Linked DNA regions of Homo sapiens. The protein of the gene in region 1 interacts with the protein of each later gene in a biochemical or structural test. Each region holds a gene or a part of one and is shown in the gene's direction. Other genes may lie near its edges.

The links. Proteins that work in one complex are often made in the same cells at the same time.
Region 2: the proteins of PROM1 (region 1) and USP11 form a complex in vitro, tested with the Homo sapiens proteins (one study listed by BioGRID).
Region 3: the proteins of PROM1 (region 1) and HK2 form a complex in vitro, tested with the Homo sapiens proteins (one study listed by BioGRID).

Annotation. Positions count from the first base shown.
Region 1 is NC_000004.12:15,968,440-15,976,559, reverse strand, and holds part of PROM1 (prominin-1 isoform 1 precursor), read left to right. Parts: intron 1-5,477; coding exon 5,478-5,493; 3' UTR 5,494-5,517; intron 5,518-7,191; 3' UTR 7,192-8,120. UniProt on the Homo sapiens protein: May play a role in cell differentiation, proliferation and apoptosis. Binds cholesterol in cholesterol-containing plasma membrane microdomains and may play a role in the organization of the apical plasma membrane in epithelial cells.
Region 2 is NC_000023.11:47,242,871-47,249,402, forward strand, and holds the end of USP11 (ubiquitin carboxyl-terminal hydrolase 11), read left to right. Parts: intron 1-525; coding exon 526-732; intron 733-1,627; coding exon 1,628-1,680; intron 1,681-1,811; coding exon 1,812-2,054; intron 2,055-2,145; coding exon 2,146-2,216; intron 2,217-2,499; coding exon 2,500-2,612; intron 2,613-4,201; coding exon 4,202-4,351; intron 4,352-4,433; coding exon 4,434-4,549; intron 4,550-4,740; coding exon 4,741-4,829; intron 4,830-4,922; coding exon 4,923-5,060; 3' UTR 5,061-5,458; downstream 5,459-6,532.
Region 3 is NC_000002.12:74,829,524-74,837,700, forward strand, and holds the start of HK2 (hexokinase-2), read left to right. Parts: upstream 1-4,603; 5' UTR 4,604-5,057; coding exon 5,058-5,120; intron 5,121-5,646; exon of another isoform or gene 5,647-5,815; intron 5,816-8,177. UniProt on the Homo sapiens protein: Catalyzes the phosphorylation of hexose, such as D-glucose and D-fructose, to hexose 6-phosphate (D-glucose 6-phosphate and D-fructose 6-phosphate, respectively).

The DNA of each region.
Region 1 (8,120 bases):
GGCGTCAGCTGTCTTCTGTCTTATGCCACCACGTGAGACCTTTCCCACAAAGGAGGGTAGACTTCCAGTTCTAGCATCTAGAAGAGAATAACCGAGCACCTATTAGTGCCACAGATGTCCTGCGTGTAGCGTCAAAGACTTAATTCTCTAGGCTCAAGAAGGTTGTCGTAGCTCTCCTTATTTACTAGTTTTTACTCACATTGCTGGAACAGCATAAGACTTGATAACTCTTGGATTTAACTTGCTGTACAAGAAAAAAGGCATGATGATGGAAAACAGGAAAATGTTAGAAAACAGCCCTAGTCGGTGTTGAGAAATGCCACTCTTCTCACTTGCTAATGAACATTTCATCTTGGGCTTTTAGTGTTGAAATTCGAACTAGATTAAATGCCATTGTTCTATTAAATACATAAATGAAGCTTTAGGATGATTCTGTGGTCATTCTGCTTACGACAGACATTGGAAGGACTTGTCTTTGTTAAGGGCCTAGCACTTCATACACCTGTGAAGCCTGGGGCTAGGGATATACTAATGTTGGACGTCCTTCCTTAACGGTCCACAGCACACTTGAATTTTTTTCTACTTTCTATATTCTGTGTTCTATAGTAGAACTCCAAGGGTGGGTTGAAGTGTTTTGTTTCAGTAAGAGAAGAATCCCAAAGACTGAGTGACACCTTATGTGAGTTTCGCTGAAGCATCTTTCATGGTAACAATTAAATCGAGACTTGTTTTCATTCCTGCACACCCACCTCCAGTGGGAACCCTGGCAAGTCTCCTGGATGTTCAGCCCGTCTACAGGCAGTCAGTGAAGAATCATAGTTTTGATTTGGTTTATTTGCAGAAGGTTAGGAAATGACATCCCAGAAACTCTAGGGACATTGGGACACCTTTCTTTTCCACCCAGACCCTCCTAGAGGTCCCAGGGGTCTGAGTTGGAGTGGATTCTAGCTCTGCCTCCATGTGTCATTGTGGAAGTGCTATTTAATGTCCTTGAGACTCAGTTTTCTCACTTGTAGAAGGAGGGAATAATAAGAGCTTTGAGGCTGGGTGTGGTGGCTCACGCCTGTAATCCCAGCACTTTGGGAGGCCAAGGCAGGCAAATCACAAGGTCAGGAGTTTGAGACCAGCCTGGCCAACATGGTGAAACCTCATCTCTACTAAAAATACAAAAAATTAGCTGGGCGTAGTGGCGGGCACCTGTAATCCCAGCTACTTGGGAGGCTGAGGCAGGAGAATCGCTTGAACCCGGGAGGCGGAGGTTGCAGTGAGCTGAGATTGCACCACCGCACTCCATCCAGGACGACAGAGTGAGACTCCGTCTCAATAAATAAATAAAAATAAGAGCCTTGTTTGCGTAGGGTTGTGAGGGTTCAATGAGGTAACAAGGCAAAACATTCACCCTTTGACCACTGTAAACCCTTACTTAAGGGTTTGTGGTTCACTATAATGACCATAATCTTTTCTTATTACCTTAACATTTCCAATGGAAGGAACCCAAAGGTGATTCAGAAGATAACTAAGTGTGGCTCTAATCTGTTAGCTGAGCCAGCTCCACTTAGCTTCCATTGATGACACCAACTGGGCTCTGGATATTAGCCGACACCTCATGATACCTTCTGTACAAATGAGCCCGAATTGGTGCCTCCTTCACACAGCTTGAGACTGTGATTTCCCCCAGTGTTTATCGCCAACAGTTTTCAGGTGTTGCCTGCATTTCAGGACAAAGCTAGGTTTAGGAGGAAAATGATCAGTGCAAAGAGAAGGTGCTAGGCTATTCTAGAAAAGACTCTGGCTGATGCGGTGGCTCACGCCTTTAATCCCAGCACCTTGGGAGGCTGAGGACAGAGGATCACTTGAGCCCAGGAGTTCAAAACCAGCCTGGGCAACACAACAAGACCCTGTGTTTATAAATGAAAAAAAAAATTATTTAATGTAAGAACAAAAGAAAAGCCTTCTGCAAACCAGGACACTAGTACTTACCAAGTGAGGAGCAGTTTGACAACTAATATTGCTTCATGGAGCGTTTCCCAGGAGAATTCTCTTAAATAAGAACCATGAAGTGGGCTGCTTCTGAGTGGCAAACTCAGTTTCATAAACTAGTTTTTTTTGGTCTCTTTTTCTTTTATTTCTATTTATTTCTTAAACACACACACGCACACTGTAATTAGTCCATTATACAGTCTGTGGCTGTTTGCTTTTGTTTGAAGGAAAAGTTAATAGACTTTCATATAAACCTACGTAAGCCTGGATTTTTTTTTTCCAACGATGCTTCTGTCTCCCACAGTCTGCGGAGCAAGTGGAGGCATTTTCATTTCAGGAAATATTGGGTGACTTGTTTCTGAATCTTCTTCCTGGCCTTTCATGGATCACTAGAGGTCACTCGGATTGTGATCTTTCAGCTGCTAGGGAGTTCTTTAGAGAGAGAGAGAGAGAGAGAGAGAAAGAGAGAGAGTGTGTGTGTCTGTGTGTGTGTGTCTGTATGTGTGTGTGTAAACTTACTCTTTCTAGCTCTGAGATGAGAGATCAGGAGAGAAAGTTGCTTCCTGTGAGACCACAAAGGCTTGAGAGCAAACAAACACCAGTGTTGGTCCAGCAGCCCCAGGAACCGGGCAGGATGACCACCCTGCCTCATCCTGCGCAGTCCCCACATCGGCCCTCTATGGCTGTCGTCACCGCCTTGTTGTCTGTCTTTTGCAGATAGACTCAGGGACGTGTAGGCCATGCCCAGGTCTCTACAGCTAGCCAGGGCCAAGCTATGATTTGAGCTATTTCTCCTATTCTCCCAAAGGCAGGTGGGCAAAGAAAAGTTCCCAAAACGGGTGGAAAGACCACAGAAAAATTTGATTATTTTTCCCAGTCTTCACTCTGAAGACTATCAAATTGGCAGAAAGGGGAACAAATAAGAGGCAAGTGTTGCTAGAAACTCTATCTGAAAAGGACAGAAATCTGATTTTCATATGAAATTACCCTTTTTAATGTTAGCAAACAATGTGGAGAAAAAAACACCATGGGGGCCCAACAAAATATGTCTGTGAACCACCTTCTTGCTAGTTCGGCTGTAGATGGTGTTCATTGTGCATGCTCTGTAGATTCTTTGCTGTTGTTGTTGTTTGAGACACAGATTCCACTCTGTCACACAGGCTGGAATGCAGTGGTGTGATCTCAGCTCACTGCAACCTCCACCTCCTGGGTTCAAGCGATTCTTGTGCTTCAGCCTCCTGAGTAGCTGGGATTACAGGCACACACCACCGTGCTCAGCTAATTTTTCTGTTATTAGTAGAGATGGAGTTTCACTATATTGGCCAGGCTGGTCTTGAACTCCTGACGTCAAGTGATCTACCCAAATTGCTAGATTACAGGCATGAGCCACTGCGCTTGGCCAGATTCTTAGATAGAAGTAGGAGGGGTCCGCATGGCTGCACCTCTGCAGCCTAGAGGAGGAAGCAGGTGGATCCCGGGGAATGCTACATAAACAGCAGCTGACCCTCACCTGTGTAGGTTCTGGCTGCATAGGTCTTGTAGAGGGTGCTTGGAGCCCCTTCCCTTGTGTGATGTTTCAGGTTCTTCGGGGGCCAGGACCTTCCTTTTTCTGTGAAGGGGATAGTGCATCATTGACAAACAGATTCCACCTCCTGGGCCAACTTCTCTCTGTTGTCCGGCTGCTCAGAGCCCTGTTGTGTTGTGTTGATTGAAATCTGGAGGTTTAATCCAGACTGACTCAAAAGTACTGTCATCAGTGTGTGATGTCTACTCTGGAGACAGGAGAGTCTCAGATGTCATGTATTGGCCTTCTTTATTTTATTGCTTTATTGTGTTGGGCACCCAGGAAGTTATCATTCAGAGCCCAAATCCTAATGGCCTGAAGAAATGTATCCTCCAGTTATGGTCTCACCTAAGGCCCTTTGTTTCTCTTACATCAGGAGCTTCCAGGATTAGTTTTAGTTACTTGCTATAGTTTCAGTGTCCCCTCCAAAACTCATGTTGAGATTTAATTGCCATTGTGACTATATTAACAGGCGAGACCTTGGACAGGTGGTTAAGTCATGAGAGTTCTGCCTTCATAAATGGATTAATGCCATTATCATGGGAGTGGGCTCCTGATAAAAGGAGGAAGCTCGACCCCATTCCCTGTCTGTCTCTTGCACTCATTTGCCCTTCCATTATGGGATGATGCGTCATGAAAGCCCTCACCAGATGCCAGCACCAGGTTCTTGGACTTCGTGGCCTTCAGAACTGTGAAAAACATATTTTTTTCTTTGTAAGTTACCCAGTCTCTGATATTCTGTTATAGCAGCAGAAAACATACTAAGACACTGCTTAAATTGGCTTGTTTTGCTCATTTCCTGCTTCTGAGGTCTCCAGAGTTCCCTCTCTTCCAGGATAGGATGGATATACTGTCTGGAGGAGAGGCAATGCTAGGCAGGAGGAGAAGAACCAGTGATCCTGTTAGTGTGCCCAGCATCCCTCTGCTCAATAAGGCAAATGTAGATGTTCTTTGGAAATGATTGCCAGAGCCTACAGTCCTTCATAATGTTCAGCTCCAGGTCCTGGTGAGGTGGACAGTAACAAGAGATTGAGCCAGCCCCTGCTTGCACCCTTTTCCAGGGGCCCTTTGAGCCCTTTCGATAAAGAGTTTGTTTCTTTACCGAAAGCATAAAAGGTAGTGCAAGAAGAGGCACACAGAACCAAGCATGTGCACTTTCTAAAGTGAAAAACTTTAGAAGGAATGTCTTGCCTGGCAGATGCCCTGATGTCCTCCGTGCATGTCCTCCCCCAACCTCATGTGTCTGATGCAGCACTGCAGTGAGGCACGGTGGATCCTGCAGGTTCAGAGGGGTTGTGATCCACCTGAAGTCACAGTCGGGCAGGGTGTGCCAGAGTTGAAACTGCCGACCTTCCAGATGGAGTTCACTAGTCTCCCCCTGGCGTATACCTTTTTGGTTGTCAAGGCCATTATCACAGAGTCACTTTAGAGGACACTAGGGCTACTGTTGATGGTTCACCCAGAGAGCCACTTAGAGGCCGTGTGCACTGCCTGATCTTACACCCAGGAATTTGTAGTTGTAACAAGGTCCCTGCGGAACTTCCATTTGCTTCTGTCTTCTGTCCTAGAAGTGGACTTTAGAAAGACTCTTGTGGTAGACATGTGTACTGCTGTGTTGCTGCTGGTCTAATGTCTTCAACACGTATTCTTAGTGACTCTTAACACTTTTAACCTTAGATTGTGAATATTCACAATTCTTACTTGTCATAGTCTGTTTATCCTCTTTATCTTCTATGCTGTTTTTAAAAGCAATACAAACAGAAGCTAGAGTAACCAGTGTTTTGTCTGACACATTCTTCTTGATAAACTTTATGAGGTGTGGTTTATATTCGTCTGTACCTTTAGTCACATGCCTGCTTCTTAGCACAGAGGTGATGAAACCACCCACAGCTTTGTTGGGGGTATTATATTTCTTTATTTTTTTGTTTTTTAGCCCATCACAACATTGATAGCTGATGTTGAAACTGCTTGAGGTAAGTTTGATGCTTTCATTGAAGAGAATCTACAGGACTATAGTTTTTAGTTTTTAGAACATCAAAACATAGCTATTCCTAATACATTGCCACATTAAGTGGGAAATCTAGATCAGCATATTAGACAAGATATTTTATATGTCCAGTCCACCCTCTGTACCTGCAGGTTCCACATCCACCGATTGATTCAACCAACTGTGGATCAAAAATACTCTAAAAAAATTTTTTTTTAAATAACAGTACAAAAATAAAAATAATAAAAACAATACAGTATAACAGCTACTTACATAACACTTACATTGTATTAGGTATTTTGAGTGATCTAGAGATGATATACAGTATGTAGGAGGATGTGTGTAGCGGTCCTGGAACCAATCCCACATGGATCCAGAGGGACGACTGCATGTATACATACGATACAGTGACCCTCTCTGTATATATATGCATTGCTATATAAATGTGTGTGTATTTATATATATATATACACACACACAGTGAGTATGTGGGTGTATATTAAAAAAATAAAATTTTTTTACTTAAAAAGATAAGATTTTTTAAGTAAAAAAATAAGGGCTGGTGCGGTGGCTCACGCCTGTAATCCCAGCACTATGGGAGGCCGAGGCGGGCAGATCACTTGAGGTCAGGAGCTCAAAACCAGCCTGGCCAACATGGTGAAACCCTGTCTCTACTAAAAAAAGTTAGCCGGGTGTGGTGGGGGGCCCCTGTAATCCTGCCTGTAATCTCAGCTACTCAGGAGGCCAAGGCAGGAGAATCGCTTCAACCTGGGAGGCAGAGGTTGCAGTGAGCCGAGATCACACCACTGCACTCCAGCGTGGGCAACAGAGTGAGACTCCATCACAAAAAAAAAAAAAAAGAAAAGAAAAGAAAGTGTTTTTTTAGAGTAAAACAATAAGCCAGGCATGGTGGTACCTGCCTGTAGTCCCAGCTACTGGGGTGGGAGGCTGTGGTAGAAGGATTGCTTGAGCCCAGGAGTTCAAAGATGCAGTGAACCATGATTATACCTGTGAATAGCCAACACACTCATGCACTCCAACTTGGAAAATGTAGTGAAACCCTATCTCTAAACAAACAAACAAACAAACAAAAATATAGAAATCTGTGTACCAACCACGTACCTTGAGTATTATGGACTTAAAATTTTTTCTGGCTGGGCATGGTAGCTCATGCCTGTAATCCCAGCACTTTGGGAAGCTGAGGTGGGCAGATCACTTGGGGTTAGGAGTTCGAGACCAGCCTGGCCAACATGGAGAAACCCCATCTCTACTAAAAAATATAAAAATTAGCCAGGCATGGTGGCAGGTGCCTGTAGTCCCAGCTACTTGGGAGGCTGAGGCTTAAACCCGGGAGACGGAGGTTGCAGTGAGCTGAGATCGCGCCATTGCACTCCAGCCTGGGCGACAGAGTGAGACTCCCTCTCAAAAAAATAAATAAATAAAATAAGATAAATAAACAAAAACCACAAAGTTTTTTTCTATATTGCTATATTTTAACAGATTGCTTTGCAACAAACATATTGCTGTGCCTCTTGAACGAGTTTATATTTTCCTTAGTTCTTAGGCTCCTGGTGGGGACCATTTTAGGATTATGCATTCCTGGTTTTCTCTTTATTAATTCAAAAGCAATTTCTAAAATTGTGTTTAACTTTCATTTCAGCATCAGGATACTCAAAGTGGAAAGGATCACAGATTTTTGGTAGTTTCTGGGTCTACAAGGACTTTCCAAATCCAGGAGCAACGCCAGTGGCAACGTAGTGACTCAGGCGGGCACCAAGGCAACGGCACCATTGGTCTCTGGGTAGTGCTTTAAGAATGAACACAATCACGTTATAGTCCATGGTCCATCACTATTCAAGGATGACTCCCTCCCTTCCTGTCTATTTTTGTTTTTTACTTTTTTACACTGAGTTTCTATTTAGACACTACAACATATGGGGTGTTTGTTCCCATTGGATGCATTTCTATCAAAACTCTATCAAATGTGATGGCTAGATTCTAACATATTGCCATGTGTGGAGTGTGCTGAACACACACCAGTTTACAGGAAAGATGCATTTTGTGTACAGTAAACGGTGTATATACCTTTTGTTACCACAGAGTTTTTTAAACAAATGAGTATTATAGGACTTTCTTCTAAATGAGCTAAATAAGTCACCATTGACTTCTTGGTGCTGTTGAAAATAATCCATTTTCACTAAAAGTGTGTGAAACCTACAGCATATTCTTCACGCAGAGATTTTCATCTATTATACTTTATCAAAGATTGGCCATGTTCCACTTGGAAATGGCATGCAAAAGCAATCATAGAGAAACCTGCGTAACTCCATCTGACAAATTCAAAAGAGAGAGAGAGATCTTGAGAGAGAAATGCTGTTCGTTCAAAAGTGGAGTTGTTTTAACAGATGCCAATTACGGTGTACAGTTTAACAGAGTTTTCTGTTGCATTACGATAAACATTAATTGGAGTGCAGCTAACATGAGTATCATCAGACTAGTATCAAGTGTTCTAAAATGAAATATGAGAAGATCCTGTCACAATTCTTAGATCTGGTGTCCAGCATGGATGAAACCTTTGAGTTTGGTCCC
Region 2 (6,532 bases), on another chromosome or scaffold:
GAGGCTGAGGCAGGAGAATCACTTGAACCCGAGAGGTTCAAGTGAGCCAAGATCACGCCACTGCACTCCAGTCTGGGCGACAGGGCAAAACTCCATCTCAAAAATAAATAAAGCCGGGCGCGGTGGCTCACGCCTGTAATCCCAGCACTTTGGGAGGCTGAAGCAGGCAGATCACGAGGTCAGGAGATGGAGACCATCCTGGCTAACACGGTGAAACCCCGTCTCTACTAAAAATACAAAAAATTAGCCGGGCGTGGTGGCAGGTGCCTGTAGTCCCAGCTACTCGGGAGGCTGAGGCAGGAGAATGGCATGAACCCGGGAGGCGGAGCTTGCAGTGAGCCGAGATCGTGCCACTGCACTGCAGCCTGGGCAACAGAGCGAGACTCCGTCTCAAAAATAAATAAATAAATAAATAAAAATAAAAATGCCTTCAGGCTGTGAGGATGAGTGGGTGGGGCAGCCAGGGCAGAGTCAGGGAGTCTCTGGGGGCCCTGATCAGGTGTGCCTGCTGTCCACCCCCCACAGCTATGAGGTGTCAGGTCGCATTGAGGCCATTGAGGGCTCAAGAGAGGACATCGTGGTTCCTGTCTACCTGCGGGAGCGCACCCCTGCCCGTGACTACAACAACTCCTACTACGGCCTGATGCTTTTTGGACACCCCCTCCTGGTATCAGTGCCCCGGGACCGCTTCACCTGGGAGGGCCTGTATAACGTCCTGATGTACCGGCTCTCGTAAGTGTCCTCTTCCCCGGGGGTGGGGGGCGGAGGGGTCTGAACTCCGACTTGGGTGTTTAGCTGCTTATTTGACACCTCCCCTGTAACAAACAAAAGACAGTCCAAACTTAACATGGCCATAGAAGAACTTGTAGGGTTTTTTCTTTCTCTAGACCTCTGGCTTTGCTACTGCCTGTCTTGGGTGCTAGGGATACAGAGGTGAACAAGATGCACAAAACAGACAACTTCATCTTGTCTTCAGTTGTCTCTCCTGGAGACTGTTGTCCCTCCTGGGAGAGTCTTGGTTTTTTTGTCTTTTTGCTGACAAATTTTCATTTTGCCTAAAATCTAGAGTCTTTACTGTGGCACACAAAGCATTGTGTTATCAGAATTCTCCCCCCTCATTTTGCATTCAAAAGTCATTCCCCAGAGGCTTTCCCTGATGGGAAGTTACAGCCGGTATGTGTCTTGTCTAGCAGTGGCTTATTAGAGTAAAAGTCCACGCTCCATACCTTTTTTTTTTTTTTTTTTTGAGATGGAGTCTTGCTCTGTTGCCCAGGCTGGAGTGTAGTGACATGATCTTGGCTCACTGCAACCTCCATCTCCCGGATTCAAGCGATTCTCCTGCCTCAGCCTCCCAAATAGCTGCAATTACAGCCGCGCGCCACCACGCCCAGCTAATCACACTCCACACCTCTGACTGGGACACAAGTTCCTTCATTCTCAGGCCACTGCTGACAGCCTTGGCCTCTTCATGCATTTACGCGTCACCCCTTCAGCCCTCTCACACCTCAGATTCAGAACGGTTTACATGTGGATCTACCAATGGCTTCCCATTATCTTAAGTAAAATCCCGGGCTCTATCCCCACTGTCCTTGTACCCGTCTTGGGAGTCTCCTCTGCTCTGTTGCAGACGCTACGTGACCAAACCCAACTCAGATGATGAGGACGATGGGGATGAGAAAGGTGAGGGGGCTAACAGTCAGTGGGCGGGGGCTCTGGGTTAGGTCTGACCCACGTAGGGTTCGTCTAGGTGTGCATTGCAGCTTAGCACTTGAGGCTCACACCTTCCCATCTCTGACATCCTCCTGTCCTAGAAGATGACGAGGAGGATAAAGATGACGTCCCTGGGCCCTCAACTGGGGGCAGCCTCCGAGACCCTGAGCCAGAGCAGGCTGGGCCCAGCTCTGGAGTCACGAACAGGTGCCCGTTCCTCCTGGACAATTGCCTTGGCACATCTCAGTGGCCCCCAAGGCGACGACGCAAGCAGCTGTTCACCCTGCAGACGGTGAACTCCAATGGGACCAGCGACCGCACAACCTCCCCTGAAGAAGTCCATGGTATTTCCTTTGGCTATCAGCGAGGGCTGGGGAGGCTGGAGGGGAGATTTCCTGGCAGCAGGATCCATGACCACCTCTCCCTCACCCCCAGCCCAGCCGTACATTGCTATCGACTGGGAGCCAGAGATGAAGAAGCGTTACTATGACGAGGTAGAGGCTGAGGTAAATGAGATCCCAGGGATGGGGGGTACTTCCAGCTCTTGCCCCTCAACTCTTCGTACATCCTCCCCACAACTCCTCTAGCTGGGAACAGAGCCAAGAGATCCAGGTCAAGCTTGGCCTTGGGGCCTGAACACCTACTGAGAGCTCCAGGGCCTGAGGTTCCTAGCTTCAAAGTCGGTGCTCTGACCCACTCAGTGTGTGTCTCCCCCGCTGGGCCCCCACTCCCCATTTCTCCATCTGTCCTCACAGCCGGCCATCTGGTTGTCTGTTCACCCAATCCTAGGGCTACGTGAAGCATGACTGCGTCGGGTACGTGATGAAGAAGGCTCCCGTGCGGCTGCAGGAGTGCATTGAGCTCTTCACCACTGTGGAGACCCTGGAGAAGGAAAACCCCTGGTGAGGGGCCAGAGCGGGGCCTGTGTGTGGGGGTTTCATTGGATGGAACTACTATATTTAGCTTTTTTTTTTTTTTTTTGAGACAGAGTCTGGCTCTGTCAACCCAGGCTGAAGTGCAGTGGTACAATCTCGGCTCAGTGCAACCTCTGCCTCCCAGGATCAAGCTGTTCTCCTGCCTAAGTCTCCTGAGTAGCTGGGATTATAGGCACCCACTACCATGCCTGGCTAATTTTTATATTTTTAGTAGAAACAGGTTTTGCCACGTTGGCCAGGCTGGTCTCGAACTCCTGACTAAAGATGATCCACCCGCCTTGGCCTTCCAAAGTGCTGGGATTACAGGCGTGAGCCACCACACCTGGCCTATATTTAGCTCTTTAAGTATACCTTCCTCCTCCCTCCTCCACACTCAAACCCTTCTTGCCAACCTGGCCACCAATCTCCTGAGCAGACTCCTACCCCAGAGCCTTGGCCTGTGCTGTTCCTTCTCCAGGAATGTTGTTCCCAGTGATCTACAGGACTTCACTCCTTACGATGCTCAGGTCTCCGATCAAATGTGACCTCATCAGAGAGACCTCCTCTGACTACCCTGTTAAAAATCACCCTTCCCCACCATCCCTCTCCATCCCCTCTCTGCTCTTTTCTTCCTAGCCAAGCATTACTTTCTAGCTCAGCGATGCCACTTGATGTGATGTCCTGTATCCACTTTTGTGTTATTTGTCATCTTCGTTAGAGTCAACTCCTCGAGGGTGAAGACTTAAGTTCACTGTGTGTTGCTTCTACCTGTTTATAATAGTGTTGAGTGTTCGGTTGATGCTCAGTAGACACTTGCAGAATAAACAAAAAGAGAACCAAAACCACACTCCCTAGTCTCAGAAATAAGAGCAGCATGTCCGTGGAGCAGAAATGGAACAGAAATACAAAATAGTTCCAAAGGGTTAAACAAGCAATCAATAAATACTGGGGAGTGAATGAATGACTAAAATACGAAGAGAGGAAACTAGAAGGATAGAGGTGGGCTCTAAAATAAGACTAGCATCTCATGGAACAGAAATCAAACAAAAATACAAAAAATAGTATGAGCACATATACAAAAGATAGTAAGCACTTGACGAGTGAGTGAAAGGATTTTAACAGGAACAGAGCAAACTAGAATACTAGATGGGCTAATAGTAAGAGCAGTGTTTCTGTGAGCCAGACATGGCACGTGAGAGGCAGTACAAAGGGCGCACAGTAGGTGCTCAGAAAAAGTCTGTTTTGGCTGGGCATTGTGGCTCATGCCTGTCATCCGAGTACCTTGGGAGGCCGACACGGGTGGATCACCTGAGGTCAGGAATTCAAGGCCAGCCTGGCCAACATGGTGAAACCCTGTCTCTATTAAAAATACACAAATTAGCAGGGCATGGTGGTGCATGCCTGTAATTCCAGCTACTCGGGAGGCTGAGGCAGGAGAATCGCTTGAACCCAGGAGGTGGAGGCTGCAGTGATCCGAGATCGCGCCACTGTACTCCAGCCTGGGCAACAGAGCGATTCTCTGTCTCAAAAAAAAAAAAAAGAAAAAGTCCGTTTGCTGACTCGGGCTCTGTCTGTAGGTACTGCCCTTCCTGCAAGCAGCACCAGCTGGCAACCAAGAAGCTGGACCTGTGGATGCTGCCGGAGATTCTCATCATCCACCTGAAACGCTTTTCCTACACCAAGTTCTCCCGAGAGAAGCTGGACACCCTCGTGGAGTTTCCTATCCGGTCAGGGGCCAGGGAGAGGATGGCTGGGGGAAGGCAGGGAAAGGAGGGGGTGTACCAGTATTAACCCTCTCCCCACCCACAGGGACCTGGACTTCTCTGAGTTTGTCATCCAGCCACAGAATGAGTCGAATCCGGAGCTGTACAAATATGACCTCATCGCGGTTTCCAACCATTATGGGGGCATGCGTGATGGACACTGTATGTGCCAGGCTGTGGGTGGGGCCTGCCCTGGGGGTTCTGGGCAGGGGGGCGATCAGGACCTTCCCAGTGAGTGACTAGGGATGTGAGCCAGTGGTGAGGTTATCGTGGTGGGAGGAGTGACAAGAGTGAATCTGGACACTTCTGAGAGGCAGGAAGGGTAGGCGAGGATAACTCTCCTTCCCTTTCAGACACAACATTTGCCTGCAACAAGGACAGCGGCCAGTGGCACTACTTTGATGACAACAGCGTCTCCCCTGTCAATGAGAATCAGATCGAGGTGTGACTTCCATCCTACCTCCTCCCCTTCTTCCTTTCTGATTCCACCTCCCCACCCCCACAATCCACACTGACTCCTGTCCTCTCCCCACAGTCCAAGGCAGCCTATGTCCTCTTCTACCAACGCCAGGACGTGGCGCGACGCCTGCTGTCCCCGGCCGGCTCATCTGGCGCCCCAGCCTCCCCTGCCTGCAGCTCCCCACCCAGCTCTGAGTTCATGGATGTTAATTGAGAGCCCTGGGTCCTGCCACAGAAAAAAAAAAAAAAAAGCCCTCTCTGCAATCTCGCTTCTCGTGTCCGCCCCGCTTCTCTTATTCGTGTTAGGTGCCCCCGCCAGGCATTGCAGGCTTAGTCGTGGCTACTGTTCTCCTGTGCCGCTGCATCGCTCTCTCCCGGGAAAGAACAGGTCGTGTCTCCTCCTAGCAGTGCGCGCCCCGCCTGTGTTTGCCCTTCCAGCAGTGACCCTCCCTTCTAGTCTTTATTTATGGTCGTGCCCTTCCCTCTCCTCAGCCCAGAGTGTTCTGCGTGGGTGGTGATGGGGGTTCACCTGAACACAGAGTGTATTTTCTTATTGAGGCCCTGTACCTTCTGCTGTGTGTGTGTATATATAAAGCACCAGTCTGCTCCCCACTCAGCAGTGTGGTTTTTTCCTCCATGGACTTAACTAAGCACCAGTTTTGTGCCTGTGTTCTGTGTTCTTATCAAAGGCCAGATGTGTGATGGGTGCAGCTCTGAGTGGTTAGTGAGCACCAGCTGTGGGCTGGGTACTGCTGTTCTAAGTGCTTTGAAAGCACCCTCTGTGTGCCAGGCACGATTCCAAGCACCAATGGCATGCCCAGTTTTTTCCAAAATATTTTCCAAATATTGATACGTAATCCTCACAACAATCTCATGCAAGAGTTGTCATCTCCAGTTTCGGATGGGGATACTGAGGTACAGAGGTCACAGAATTGCTCAGGGCTTGTCAGGAGGTCAGTATACCTCATGTGCTACCCGAGTCGGTCCCTGGAGTGGGTGCTTGGCTTGTCTGGACCCAGGACTGCTACTCAATCTGCAGACATGAGCTGCCCTACAGGCAATGTGGAAATGGAGCACGTGGGACGGATGCATCCATGTGGGCAAATTTGTGGTTTGGGGACATAAAAATACTCCTCTCAGGCCAGGTGCCACCTGTTATCTCAACACTTTGGGAGGCCAAGGCAGGAGGATCACTTGGGCCCTGGATGTTGAGGTTGCAGTGATCTATGATCGTGCCACTGCACTCCAGTCTGGGCCACAGAGCAAGACCCCATCTCAAAAAAAGGATGCTATTCCCCAGACCACCTCACAGACCCCCAGTAGTGTCCTCTGAGAAGATTTTGTCCCCCTGAGACCTCCTTTGGAGATGGTACATGCATTTGGCAGACCAGCCAACCTGCCAGGACAAATGTGCTGTCTGTGTGTGGCCCCTGTAGTCAGCCCCCTCTCCCATCATGACCCCAGCTCCCACACCAGGCAGGTTCCCTCCAACCTCACCCCAGACGACACTGAACACCTGCCGCAGGAATTTGGACATAAATAAGCCATCCAACCCTTCACACTGATGGGTGAGGGGAATCCTGATCGGTGGCAGCTGAGAGGCCATTCTCATGGCCAGGGCCTCAACACTCCCCCCAGCCTTCTGCCTTTGCACTGGGTCTGGGCAGACCCACTGTGAGGGTCACT
Region 3 (8,177 bases), on another chromosome or scaffold:
CACCTCGGCCTCTCAAAGTGCTGGGATTACAGGCATGAGCCACTGTGCCTGGCCTATAACAATACTGATTCCAACCACCTCCCAGGATTACTGGGAACTTTGTAAGAGATAACATGTACTTAAAGTTCCTTATGATTATTATCCGGTTCACATGAAATGGGACCACAGAGGGGAGTGGAGAAGAGGCATTAAAACTAGTGTGTGAAGAAAGTATCATAGCTGACCCAACCCCACTGGCTTTGGTTCTACCTGCCTGGAGACAATACATTTTGTAGCACCAGGCTATTGAATTTCCATCCGATTCTAGGCAGCAGGCATCCTCCTCTTCATTTTCCTTCACCCACCCCAGCCAAATCCATCAGTTCCACCTCTGACTTCACAATACCTAAACCCATAACCTTCCTCCCTGCCCCACTCTCATCTTGGCTTAGGTCCTAGTCTTACCTTATAGCTTCTGCCTCTTTCTGCCTTTGGTCTCTGACCTCTTTCCCTCCCCATCCACATGGAGGGCAGTTATGGCCCTAAAAAAGCAAACGCGATTGTATAATTTCCTGCTTTGAGAATCTTGGGGCCAGGTGTGGTGCCTCATGTCTATAATCCCAGCACTTTGGGAAGCTGAGATGGGCGATCACTTGAGGTTAGGAGTTTGAGACCAGCCTGGCCAACATGTCAAAACCCTGTCTCTACTAAAAATATAAAAATTAGCTGGACATGGTGGTGAGTGCCTATAATTTCAGCTATTTGGGAGGCTGAGGCAGGAGAATCGCTTGAACCCAGGAGGCGGAGGTGGCAGTGAGCCGAGATTGTGCCACTGCACCCCAGCCTGGGCGATAGAGCAAGACCCTATCTAAAAAAAACAAAAAACAAACAACAAACAAACAAAGAATCTTTGTTAAATATCTAAGTCTATATATTTATGGTGTCTATATCTGAAGAGGGAAGCCCAGTTATGAGGCTGTTCCAGTCAGGTGAGAGATAACTGGGCATATGATCTAGGGTAGACAGAGAAATGGGAAAAGATTTGGGAAATAATATATAAAACTATAAACTCTATGTGTGTGTGTATTGTTACACAACATGTGAACAGTAGTCATCTCTAAGATTCTTCTATGAATTCATTCAATAAATGTTTATTGCATGTCTGCCATGCGTCAGGCACCATTTTAGGCACTGCAAACTTGAAGGAATGACAGACACAGACCCTGCTGTCTTTTAGCTTATCATCTATTGAGGAGAGGAAGAACATAGCGAAAATAAATAGGAAATCAACTAGGGCCAAGTGATAGTGACTTGGGGAACTATTTGAGATAAACTGGTCAAGGAAAGCCTGATGAGGTAGAAGGTGGGGACTTGACTCTGGAGGTGGGGGCTAAGACTCGGGACCAGACTCTAGATTAGAGTTCCAGATTTAACACCTAGAAGTCACTGCCCCTTTCCATGGCAATGACTCAACAACCCGTTACCAACCTTTTTCTAGAAATTTCTGTATAACCTGCCCCTTAATTTGCATGTTAACTAAAAGTGGGTAGAAATATGAGTGCAGAGCTGCCTCTGAGCTGCTACTCTGGGCACACGGCCTTATGGGGTAGCCCTGCTCTGCAAAGACCAGTGCCTCTGCTCCTGATGTACACTGCCACTTCAATATAAGCTGCTGTCTAATGCCACCTGCTTGCCCTTGAATTTTTTTTTTTTTTTGAAATGGAGTCTCTTTCTGTTGCCCAGGCTGGAGTGCAGTGGCGCGATCTCGGCTCACTGCAAGCTCCGCCTCCCGGGTTCACGCCATTCTCCTGCCTCAGCCTCCCGAGTAGCTGGGACTACAGGAGCCCGCCACCACGCCTAATTTTTTGTATTTTTTTTTTTTTTAGTAGAGATGGGGTTTCACCGTGTTAGCTAGGATGGTCTCGATCTCCTGACCTCGTGATCCGTCCACCTCAGCCTCCCAAAGTGCTGGGATTACAGGTGTGAGCCACCGCGCCCGGCATCCCTTGAATTCTTTACTGGGTGAAGCCAAAAATCTTCCCAGGCTAAGTCCAAATTTTGGGGCCTGCCTGCCCTGCATCATGAGGAGGTATCTGAGTGGAACGTCAATGAGGAGGAAGAATGAGTTGGAGACAGGCCTGGAGAAGAATATTCTAGATAGAAGGAAAAGGAAGAGCAAAGACCCTTGGGTGAGAAAGAGTTTGTATTTTTGAGGAAAGCATGCTAGTGTGAATGCCAAGCAGTATTCTGTGGGAAGATCTCAGGAGGTGTCTAAGGGCATGGAGATAAGTGGTCAGATGCACGGTCTGTTTTATAGGTGGAATTAACTGCTTGCTGATGGATTGACTGGCTGTGAGGGTGAGTGGCAAGAAGGAATCGAAGACGAGTTAGGGTGGATGGCGATGCCATTTGCTGAGACAACTGGGAAAGAAAAAGATTTGGGAAAAAAAGTTGAGTTCAGCTTTGGACATGTTAAGTGTGATATGCTAGTCACTTCAGTGGAGATGACAAATGGCAAGCTGGAGAAATAAGCCTGCAACTCCAGGAGAGGACCTCGCTGTAGATTTACTATGGTGAGTCATCAGCATGCATATGATATAACAGTCATGGGGCTAGGAAGTTAGTTTCTCCTCAGGGAGTTTGAAACTGTAACTAGTTCAGAGAAGAGGGTGGAGGGCAGCCCCGAATACCCCAGCATTTACCAATAGAGCAAACAGGGACTCAGGAGCCTGGGGAGTGAGGTTAGCCAGAAACCCTCAGAGTGGAGCACTGGTGCTCTTACTGAGAGAGGAAGGTGTGTCCAGATGGAGGATGTGATTAACTGTCCTCAACATCCCTGAGAGAAGGAGTAAGACAAGGGCAGGGAAGAGAAGAGAATGCAAGATTTGGCAACATGTAGGTCATTATGATGACTATGACAAAAGCAGTTTGAGCTCAATTCTGTGTGGAGTATAGGGAAGGAGGGTTGAGGACGTGCATTTAGAAGGGTACATAGTTCTCAAGAAGTTTTGCTGAGCACATCTGTAATCCCAGCTATTTGGGACGCTGAAGTGGGAGGACTGCTTGAGCCCAGGAGTTCAAGACCAGCCTGGGCAACATATCGAGTCCCTGCTTTAAAAAAAAAAAAAAGGAAGTTTTGCTGAGAGGCTAGATGGATTATGATTTTTGTTTATTTTTCCTGTTTATCCATATATTATTTTTCAACAATGAGTATTGATTACTTATATAATAATTTTAAGGCTGTACACATTGCAGACAGCACCCCACTGTTTGAAAAACTCCTCCTCAGTAGAACATGGCAGACCTTCATCTTCCTTCCCTGAACCTTTTCCAACCTTAGGCTTGCCATTCTCCACCAGTGCTAATGTCATGTCTCTTGAAATCTGTATTGAAGTCAGTATTTCATTCTTGCCAGTTTCCACTGTGTGTTTAAATTTGGAGTCTGGTGTCTAGCATTAGCTGGGGTTGGAGCTTCCACTCCTCTCAGCATTGGTAAGCCTCCTCACCCACCCCATCCCATGTCCAAGATCACCCAGTTACACACTTACCATCTACCCAGTTCATTCACATCATCAGTCCCAGAGCTGCAGAGATGCTCTTTTTCTACCTCCTACTTCTCTGGCTCTTAGAGAGGCAGCATGGGATAATGGGGCAAGCGAATAGGGCCTTAAAGTAGAGGGACAAGGGTTCTCTTCCCTATCTGCCACTTATTAGCTATGTGACCTCGTGTAAGTCTCTTTTCTTTTTGAGACAGGGTCTCCCTCTGTCACCTAGGCTGGAGTACAGTGGTATGATCATAGCTCACTGCAGCCTCGAACTCCTGGGCTCAAGCTATCCTTCCACCTTAGCCTTCTGAGCAGCAGGGACTACAGGCACATGCCACCATGTCCGGCTGATTTATTTATTTTTATTTGGGAAGATGGGGGTCTCACTATGTCGCCCAGGCTGGTCATGAACTCCTGGTCTCAAGCAACCCTCCAACCTTGGACTCCCAAAGTGCTGGGATTACAGGTGTGAGCCCTGGCCTTGCCTCAATTTCCTCATCTGTAAAACGGGGTTAGTGAAACTCACATCCTATCAGTGGTTTTGAGGATGGGCCGACTCTTGTATTGCCTGCTCTAGTACAATCAGCAGCTAAGGCGGCTCACTTTCCGGCCGTGCTACAATAGGTAAGAACTAGGATGCTTTAGACGTGTGACTGGGCAGTGGGAGCCCCTCACATGATCCCGAGATGCCAGACAGTGTCTCTCCGCACAGGGCGTGTGCTGGTCCAGAGGCCCGTTTTTCCAGTCGCCCCACACCCCGGGTCCGCGATCACGCTCCCCCCACCCATAGCCGAGCCTGACGCGGCGGTGGCTCATGCGCCTTTCCGTCCCAGCCTTTAGCCACGGACCACACGTCCCATCTCAGGCGCCCCGCCCCTCCCCCGCCCCCCGCCCCCGGCGCGCCTCCCCAGGCTGCCGGCTCCGGTGTCTGAGCGGCCGCGCCCGCGAGCCGTGAGCGATGATTGGCTGCGCCACGGCGGCGGGCGGTCCGTGGGCGCACACACCCTCCCCGCGCAGCCAATGGGCGTGCGCACGTCACTGATCCGGAGGCCCGCGGGCCGGCAGCCCCTCAATAAGCCACATTGTTGCATGAAACTCCGGCGCAGGAGTCCCGGGCTGCCGCTGGCAACATCGTGTCACCCAGCTAAGAAAATCCGCGGGCCCGAGCCACGCGCCTGTGAATCGGAGAGGTCCCACTGCCCGAGTGGAGCCGGGCTGAGATTCTTCTCAAGTTGAGCCTCAGTGATCCTGTGGCCGAAGTTAGCGCCTTGACGTGGGACAACCGGACACGTCGCCAGGAGAGAACTGAGGCGCCTTCTAGCAGTTGTGACGCCAAAATCACGTCTCCGGAGACCCGCGCCCTCCGCCAGCCGGGCGCACCCTCGCCGGTAGCCTTCTTTGTGCGCCGTCCGGACTCCCAGCTCCCGGCCCGGCAGCCGAGCCCCAGCACAAAGCAGTCGGACCGCGCCGCCCGCCTCCCCTCTCGCGTCTCCGCCTCGGTTTCCCAACTCTGCGCCGTCGGGCCGCGGCAGGATGATTGCCTCGCATCTGCTTGCCTACTTCTTCACGGAGCTCAACCATGACCAAGTGCAGAAGGTAAGTCAGCGCGGGCGGGGCGGCAGGCTGGGCTCTGGCAAAGTGGTCTGGCCTCCATCAGTCTCTTCCTCGACCCTGCGGGGACCCGCTTCCTCCCTACTCCGGGCCTGGGAGCGGAAAAAGTTTGGGCAGCCGGGACACTCCTGGGCGCCAGGAGCCACGTCCGCTAAGCACAGCCGGCGAGTGCGCGCGGGCGGGGAGCCGAGGTCGCGCTCCGCCGGGCGCCCTCCCTCCCTGAGCTCCGGCACGCGCTCACGCTCTCTCCCCCAGTCCCTTTTTCCCTGTTACTGGAGGGGCGGGTCACCCCGCAGGTAGTCAGGGATTGCTGCGCCCACGTGGGAGGGAGCCCCCTTCTGCAGCGCGAGTTCCGGCGAGAGCACGTGGAGAGAATCGTGGCTGCGGGAGGCTGCTCCGCTGCCGCGTGGGGCCGCCGGGGGCCGTCCGCGCTCGCGGACCGCGTGTAGGAGACGAGCGGTTCCCTTCTCCTTCCCCGCGGCCCTGCGGGGGTGGGCTCGAGGAGAAGCTGACCCGGGAAGGAGTAGGAAAGGGGCAGAGGAACTCCGCCCGCCGCGCCCCCTCCCCGGAACTGTGGCGCCCGGAACTGAGGCTCGGCGAGGGGCGTCCCCCATTAACCCCCGCCCCTCCAAATCAGCCTCGGGACCGCCCAGCCTCGTGTCCTCAGGATCTGCCTCTGAGTAAGGGGAGGACTTTGGTTGTTACTTTCTGGTTTGCCCTAAAAGTTACTCGGAGAGGCCAACGCGCCGCGTTCCTGGATTACTTGAGATTCTTGAGATTTATGTCCTTCCGAAAACGAGCTTTTTTTTCCTTAAGCCTCGACCTGTCTGTTCCCACCTGGCTCCGCAGCTCCCTATGGCTGAGCGCTCACCGCGGCCGGGTCATTTACATAAGAAAGAGCCTCAGGCCAAGCCGGGAAGCTCTCATTCCCCGCCTCGGGGTATGGGGGTGGGGATGGGGCCGGGGCCGGGGACGGGCAGGGCCAGGGGCGCGCTCAGAATTGAGTTTCTGAAATGCCCGGGATTAGGGGATTGGCTCCTGGCCCGGGCCTGGGCTACGATTTGAGGTAGGGGACAAGTTGGGAGGGGATTAGCTGGAGGGAGGTTGTTTTAAGAGCTGTGAGGCAACGGAGCGTTGCTCAGTTACATACTTGGAATTTCAATATCTGATGGGAACACATTTTTGGGAAAATGTCTTGCCATTACCGTTCTGTGCGACAACCTGCTCATATTCCCATTCTGGCGGTCCCGAGGGCATAGGAGGCATATTAATGTAGTGATGGCGCGTGAACCTCCAAGAAAAGCAGAAGTTACCCAGCCTCAAGTCTGGAGGAGCGAGCAGAGGCGGTTGATTTACTTGGGTTTTACTGTTTGTAAATGGCTGTTATTCTCTAATTCCTGGGATGTGGCTCTGCACCTTGATTCAGTTTACTTAAAAACGTGCCTTTGATTTGAGCTGGCAGGATCTTGGTAACTTCTCAACTTCTAAGAACTCTTGGGGAAGGCTATCATCTCTTGGCAAGTCCTAAAATACACAGTGGAGCGTCATTAATCTCAGGGAGTTCTCCTTTGGGTATTACCCCAGGACATTTGAATCCTTGCATAAATTTACTCTTCCTCAATCCAGAGGAGGGCACCAGGGTTGGAACCCCGTTGGAGTTATACCACTCTCAATCTTGGAATGGGGGTCATCTCTCTTCCCCCAGAGTGGAACGGGAATTAACCAGGGTATCTGGAAATGAGTTGTAATCTCTGTCTTGTGGTTTATTAACCATAGCACCCTGAGCCTCTTTGGACAGCCCGTTTCTCTTTGTGAAATGCAATAATAACAGTAGGCTTGTCCACTTTATGGAGTTGCGATTATTAAGCGCTGCAGTGTGCAACTGTCATTCCTGTAGGTTTTCTCTACCCTTGCAGCCACCTGTCAGTTTGAGAAGTGTCCCTGAAGACCCTTGGGTGTATTTCCTCTAAACTACCAATAGGGGCAGAATTGAATCAGGCCTTTAACTCAGTAATTGTCAGAACCTGGGATTTGACTCCCAGCTTAGGTGAGCGAAGCTGTTTGATTCCAGTGGCAGTTACATAGAAAGCAGAGACTCAGAGTATCTTGGAACCATCTTTCTGAGCTGCCATTGGAAAGAAGAATTAAGAGAGAAGAATGAAAATTTAGTATAACTTTAGAGTCTTTTGAAAAGACCTTTTGATTTGGACCCTTCTGAAATCCCCTTGTGATAAGATAATCTTACATATTCTGGGTTGTAGTCTGAGGACGTGGAAGGCTTGGGTTCACCTGCCCAACGAGGTCACTTGTCGTCTCCTGATGGACAAGCCCAGTGTTTTGGGGCATTAGAGATGAGAATCAGGGTTATTTCCTCACTTTTGCCAATTGGAACTCAGGAGCGACTGCAGAGCACCTACTGTGTACCTGGCACTGTTCTAAGCTCTTAGGTATGTCAGCTTATTAACATTCAAATCAGCCCCATGAGGTGAAGACTGATTGTTATTAGCATCCCTGTTTAACTGAGGCCCAGGGGTAACTTGCCCAAGGTCTCCAGCTTTTCTGTACGAGCTGGGAATCGAAGCCATGCATTTGGCTTTAGAGCACCATGCTCTTGAGCACATACTTGCCTGTCTCTGGGGAATGTGAGCGGGCTCCTGGCCCGGGCCTCTGCCCACTCCTGGCTGCTGGTAGCACCCCCACCCATCATGACCACAGATGGAACTAGCTCTTCTGTTGGTTTGATCAGTGGCACCAGTACCCTCTGGCTACTCCAGCTGAGAGTCCTGGATTCATTTTCATCAACTCTCTAACTCTGTCAACTGGTCTCTTGGTTACTTTGGAGGCCTGCTAAGGGTGTCCCTAAAACTCTTTCTGGAGCCAGACTGGATCATTTCAGGAGCTCTCTACAGCTCTTAATTGCCTCCCGCTTCTACCCCCCAGCTTAGCCTCATCTTCCTCTCCATCCTTTCATTCCTCTGTCCTGCCTGTTCACACTAGGTCCTTTTGCCCTTGTCTTTTTTTTTTTTTTTTTTTTTTGAGACA